Homo sapiens: one gene and its partner. Each later gene encodes a partner of the first gene's protein in a complex. Each region holds a gene or a part of one and is shown on either strand. Other genes may lie near its edges. A codon is read from its position in the direction of its gene.

Region 1 (2,518 bases):
GGGACTGAACGGCAGCCCCAGCGCAGTTCTCCCCACGTTTGTCCGCAGAACCCCGGCGAGGCCGAGGTGGTCATTTCCCTCCCTAGCCGGATGGCCGCGCCGGGTGAGGCCGGTTTGGGCGCGAAGCACGGGCGTGTGGCGCTCCACTTCCGCAAAGGCCAGCCGCGCTCAGGACCGCGAGCCCTGAGCGTCCCCCTAGTGACCCCTGGCCTCGTGCCCGACGCCCCGTCTCTCCTGCCCCGGCCCCCCCGCCACGCAGGGCCCCGGTCACGCGCGGGGGGAGCCGGACCGCCAAAGCCCGCGAGCCGGCGCCCAGGAAAGCGTCCGCAGCCCGGCCAGTGCGGATAGGCCAATTGGCCGAAGTCGGCAAAGCTCAAGACGGCACCGCAGCAGGGGGACCCGACCCCGTTTTGTTGGGAGCCTAAGCGGAAGTGCCTTCCCCGCTCTAATGCCGGAGGAGCACGGAGGGCAAGCGGTACAGCTTCTTCCAAGTGCTGATGTGGGTGGCTCTGAAAAGAGCCTTTTGGATACGATGGAACCTCCGGCCGAACCGCCACTTCTTAAGCCCGCTCTCCACGGATGCGGCGGGCCAGCTGGATGTCCTTGGGCATAATGGTCACGCGCTTGGCGTGGATGGCGCACAGGTTCGTGTCTTCGAACAGCCCCACCAGGTAGGCCTCGCTGGCCTCCTGCAGCGCCATCACGGCCGAGCTCTGGAAGCGCAGGTCCGTCTTAAAGTCCTGCGCGATCTCGCGTACCAGCCGCTGGAAGGGCAGCTTGCGGATCAGCAGCTCCGTGGACTTCTGGTAGCGCCGGATCTCCCGCAGGGCTACGGTGCCGGGCCGGTAGCGGTGCGGCTTCTTCACCCCGCCCGTGGCCGGCGCGCTCTTGCGGGCCGCCTTGGTGGCCAGCTGCTTCCTCGGGGCCTTGCCGCCGGTCGACTTGCGAGCAGTCTGCTTAGTACGGGCCATAGCGAACCAAAACACAGGCTTACCAGCGCAGCGGCGGGGAGAAAAACGAGCTCCTAGCCCCGCCGCAGCCGTCTTTATAAGCACAGTCTTTTCCCGATTGGGCGGAACAATAATTGAAAATCCCGCGCTGGCTGTCCATTGGCTGTGACGTCACCCGTCCTAAAGTCACCGGTTGGCTTGGGCAGATTCCTCCCTAATCCCGCCCACCCCGCCTCACTTTCTACTTACCAGTTGGCGAAGTTTCGCAAGCTTGTTTTTCCCCTTTCCTTCAGGGTGAAAGTCATTTTCCATTGCAGCTTTGTCAGATTGTTCCCTTTCCGCCCTTCGCTTCCTTAGAACACACTGCCCGCAATACCCCCCCTTTCTTGCTGCGCCCTACAGCTCCCGCGTGGAACCTCATTCTTCCATTTGCCCCCCGCCCCCAGTTGCTACTTGGCGGATCGTTTTTCGCCTGTCGGGTGCCTTTTGGGTGGGAGAGGTGCCCGCCCCCAGGACGCAAGATTCCGCCTCCGAGGCCCTTACTCTCCGCCGCCAGGGCGCTTTGGAAAACAAAACAGAAACTAAGACTTAAGTCAGCTCAGTGAAGCCAAGACCCAGCTCCGCCACACTAGCGAGCACTACCCGCTCAGGGCCCTCCCCATCGGGGGTGGGGACGAGGAGCACGTCCCGCTGGTGCCAGACTAGGTCTAAGTGTCCGGCCATAGCCTGCGGAAACCACTAGGGAAGCGCGCGCTCCGCGCGCAACACTTCAGCGCGTTGGGTACTGCCCGCGGCGCTGGTGTTTGTGACTGTGTGGAGCGGACCGTGGCGGCGCCCAGGACGTTTGGTGCCTGCACCTGCCCTGGGAAGTCCTAGGACTGGGGACCCACTCATCGAAGAGCCAAGGCAGTTACGTGCTCCAGATGGAAGACGGCGCGCACACACACACACCCCGCCCCGCCCCGCCCCGTCCCGTCCCGTCCCGTCCCGTCCCGTCCCGTCAGCTCCAGGTTCGCTATTCACTACTGAGGAACGCTGGACTGAGAGTGGCCAGCATTAACAACTCTTTTATTTGAAAACGTGGGTGGCTCTGAAAAGAGCCTTTTGAGTTCACAGGTGCCCCTTCGAGACGCGGGCCGGGCTGGGCCCACTTGGGCCGGACGTCAGCCTCACTTGCCCTTTGCCTTGTGGTGACTCTCCGTCTTCTTAGGGAGCAGTACGGCCTGGATGTTAGGCAAGACGCCGCCCTGGGCGATGGTGACTTTGCCCAGCAGCTTGTTCAGTTCCTCGTCGTTGCGGATGGCCAGCTGGAGGTGACGAGGGATGATGCGCGTCTTCTTGTTGTCCCGAGCCGCGTTGCCCGCCAGCTCCAGGATCTCGGCGGTCAGATACTCGAGGACCGCAGCCATGTAGACGGGCGCGCCGGCCCCCACTCGCTCCGCGTAGTTGCCTTTGCGCAGCAAGCGATGCACTCGCCCTACCGGGAACTGAAGGCCAGCGCGGGACGAGCGCGACTTGGCCTTGGCGCGGGCCTTGCCTCCTTGCTTGCCACGACCAGACATGACAGC
Region 2 (3,500 bases), on another chromosome or scaffold:
GCCCCTCCAGAAAAGCTATTAGGTTTCAGACGGTGACAGCAGAGTATCGCACCAAGTGTGGGGTCCTGTGCAGCTGCCTGGGTTGCACACCCAGGAGGCCAGTCCTGACTGTTGAGTAGATAGGGCCTGTCAGTGGATTTAGTAGTGGTGGCTGAAGGGGTTAGATAGGATGTGGTAGCTTGGATTAGGGCGGTAACAGCAGTGATGGAGGTAAGGGAGTGTATCCGAGCAGAGGATCCTGAAAAATCACCTGGAGAACTCAGAATCTCCATTTGTTTTTTCTTTCTTCTTTTTTTTTTTTTTTTTTTTTGAGATGGAGTCTCACTGTCACCCAGGCTGGAGTGCAGTGGCGTGATCTCGGCTCACTGCAAGCTCCGCCTCCCAGGTTCACGCCATTCTCCTGCCTCAGCCTCCTGAGTAGCTGAGACTACAGGTGCCCGCCACCAGGCCTGGCTAATTTCTTGTATTTTTTAGTAGAGATGGGGCTTCACCATGTTAGCCAAGATGGTCTCAATCTCCTGACCTTGTGATCCGCCCACCTTGGCCTTCCAAAGTGCTGGGATTACAGGCGTGAGCCACTGCACCGGCCTTCTTTTTTTAAAGAGATAGCTTTTCCCTCTGTCATCCAGACTGGAGTGCAGTGGTGCAATCACAGATCACTGTAAACTCCTGGAACTCCTGGGCTCAAGCGAGCCTATTTTTTTTTTTTTTTTTTTTTAGAGACAGGGTCTCACTCTGTTGCCCAGGCTCGAGTGCAGTGGCGCAATCTCAGCTCACTGTAACTTCCGCCCCCTGGATTCAAATAATTCTCGTGCCTCAGCCTCCCGAGTAGCTAGGATAACAAATGTGCACCACCACATCCAGCTAATTTTTGTATTTTTTAGTAGAGACAGGGTTTCACCATGTTGGCCAGGCTAGTCTTTAACTCCTGACCCCAAGTGATCTGCCTGCCCCAGCCTCCCAAAGTGTTGAGATTACAGGTGTGAGCCATGGCACCTGGCCTCAAGTGAGTCTTCTGCTTCAGCCTCCCTAGTAGCTGGCACTACAGGCCTGCATCACTATGCCTGGTTAATGTTTTTTTTGTAGAGACAGGTCTCGCTGTCACCCAGAATGCAGTGCAGAGGTGCAATCATAGCTCGCTGTAGCCTCAAACTCTCAGGCTCAAGCAAGCCTCCTGCTTCAGCCTCCCAAGTAGCTGGGACGACAGGTGCAAGCCACCACACCCGGCTAATTTTTCTATTTTTTGTAGAGATGGGGGTCTCGCTATGTGGCCCAGGCTAGTCTGGAACTCCTGGCCTTAAGCAGTCCTCCCGCCTCTGCCTCCCAAAGTGCTGGAAGCCACCACACCCGGCCAGAATCTACATTTGACAACCCAGGTGGGGTGCTGCATGAGAGCCATTTAGGAGTTACAGTCCATCCTCATTATTCATGGGTTCCATATGTGCAAGTTCACCTACCTGCTAAGTTTATTTGTAACCCCAAGATGAACACCTGCTTGCTTTCACAGTCACTTGCAGACATGCACAGAGCAGGGAAAAACTGGAGTTACCTACCATGCCTGTTCCCACCTAGAGTTACCTACCACGCCTGTTCCCACCTGAGGTCAAACAAGGCAACACTCTGTCTTCTGGTCTCAGCTCTCACTGTGAATGAGCGTCCTTTCCTCAGCCTACTTAGTGCTTTTTTCCATGTTTTGTGCTTTTTGTTGGTGAGTTTGCTGTCTATGATGGCACCCAACGGTAGTGCTGAAGTGCAGTGTAGGATACAAGAAAGGCTTTATGGAAAATATGCGTATTAGAGAAGTTTCATTCAGGAGAGTTATAGTGCTGTTGGCTGTGAATTCAACATAAATGAACCACTGTATATATTAAATAAGGTATCTTTCCTTTTTTTCTGAGACAGAGTATCGCTGTATCACCCAGGCTAGAGTGCACTGGTGCGATCTCAGCTCACTGCAATCTCCATCTCCCAGGTTCAAGCGATTCTCCCGCCGCAGCCTCCCGAGTAGCTGGGATTACAGGCATGCGCCACCACACCTGGCTGATTTTTGTATTTTTAGTAGAGACGGGGTTTCATCACATTGGCCAGGCTGGTCTTGAACTCCTGACCTCAGGCGATCCACCCACCTCAGCCTCCCAAAGTGCTGGGATTACAGGTTTGAGCCATCATAGCCGTCCTGGTGTCTTTTCAACATAAACACACATACAAGTTTACGTATTAACCAGCTGACGAAAATGTGACTTCCAAGAATCTAACCCTGTATTTCCCCTGGGGCAATGGTTCAGTATTCACTAATTCAGTGTTCGCGGCAACTTTATAGAACGTAACTCTTGTAAATAATGGGAATTGCCTGTAAATCAGTGGCAGCTTTGACACAGAGGTGGGGGAAGGGAGGGCCTGACGGCCTCTGAGAGGTCAGATAGTTCCTGACAGTAGAACTAGGATTTGAACCTGAACTTTTAAATTGTTTTAATTGATTGATTGAGACTGGGTCTTACTGTTGCCCAGGCTGGAGTGCAGTGGTGTGGTCTTGGCTCATTGTAGCTTCCATCTCCCAGGCTCAAGTGATCCTCCCATTTCAGCCTCCCAAGTATCTGAGACTACAGGCGCACACCACCATGCTCTGCTGATTTTTACATTTTTTGTAGAGATGCGGTCTCACTATATTGCCCCAGCTGGTCTCAAACTCCTGGCCTCAAGCAATCCTCCCACCTCGGCCTCCCAAAGTGCTGGGATTACAGGTGTGAGCAACTGTGCCCGGCCTCTATGTTTTTAATACTTGTTTTTTTCTTTTTTAGAGACAGGGTCTCACTGTGTTGCCTAGGCTGGAGTGCAGTGGCTCACTGCAGCCTCAGACTCCCGGGCTCAAGCAATCCTCTCACCTCAGTCCCTGGAGTAGCTGGGTCTATAGGCGTGAGCCCGTGCCCAGCTGAACTTGAACTTTTGATTCCTGAAGCACTCTGTGGGATTTCAGGTAAAAGAGGATGTTTCTAGGAATCAAGGGCTAAGGCCTAAGGCCTCATCTTTCTTACCTGAAAGACAAACATGTGTCTCCCTGCTGGCACAGGGCCCACCAGCACCGAGTCTAGGATCTGATCAAATTCCTCACTCTCAGCCGAGCCAACATAAATGATCTTCCACTCCAGGTCTGCAAAGATATAGGAGGGTTAACTAATTGAAATAGCTCAACAGCAAGAAGGCAGGGATAGGCTCTTGTATTTTTTTTTTTTTTTGAGATGGAGTCTCGTTCTGTCACACAGGTTAGAATACAGTGATGCGATCTCAGCTCACTGCAACTTCCGCCTCCCAGGTTCCAGTGATTCTCATACCTCAGCCTCCCGAGTGGCTGGGATTATAGGTGCCCGCTGCCACGCCTAGCTAATTTTTTTTTTCTTTTTTGAGATGGAGTTTCACTCTTGTCACCCAGGTTGGAGTACAATGGTGTGATCTTGGCTCACTGCAATCTCTGCCTCCCAGGTTCAAGCGATTCTCCTGTCTCA

Evidence for each region.
Region 2: the proteins of H3C15 (region 1) and ASF1B are in contact, whole or in part, in a crystal structure (PDB 5BO0), measured with the Homo sapiens proteins. Residues at the interface, in NP_001005464.1 of Homo sapiens: Asp107 (codon at 653), Leu110 (codon at 644), Cys111 (codon at 641), His114 (codon at 632), Ala115 (codon at 629), Lys116 (codon at 626), Lys123 (codon at 605), Gln126 (codon at 596), Leu127 (codon at 593), Ala128 (codon at 590), Arg130 (codon at 584), Ile131 (codon at 581), Arg132 (codon at 578), Gly133 (codon at 575), Glu134 (codon at 572), Arg135 (codon at 569); in NP_060624.1 of Homo sapiens: Val45 (codon at 3,125), Ala48 (codon at 3,116), Ser50 (codon at 3,110), Glu51 (codon at 3,107), Asp54 (codon at 3,098), Thr87, Asp88, Val90, Val92, Thr93, Val94, Leu96, Arg108, Gly110, Tyr111, Tyr112, Asn114, Glu116, Leu140, Asn143, Arg145, Thr147, Phe149.

The regions. Positions count from the first base shown.
Region 1 is NC_000001.11:149,851,108-149,853,625, reverse strand, and holds H3C15 (histone H3.2), read right to left. Parts: upstream 1,019-2,518; 5' UTR 972-1,018; coding exon 561-971; 3' UTR 501-560; downstream 1-500. Other genes in the region: H2AC19 (histone H2A type 2-A), read right to left, coding at 2,120-2,512. UniProt on the Homo sapiens protein: Core component of nucleosome. Nucleosomes wrap and compact DNA into chromatin, limiting DNA accessibility to the cellular machineries which require DNA as a template.
Region 2 is NC_000019.10:14,123,090-14,126,589, forward strand, and holds part of ASF1B (histone chaperone ASF1B), read right to left. Parts: intron 3,149-3,500; coding exon 3,033-3,148; intron 1-3,032. UniProt on the Homo sapiens protein: Histone chaperone that facilitates histone deposition and histone exchange and removal during nucleosome assembly and disassembly. Cooperates with chromatin assembly factor 1 (CAF-1) to promote replication-dependent chromatin assembly.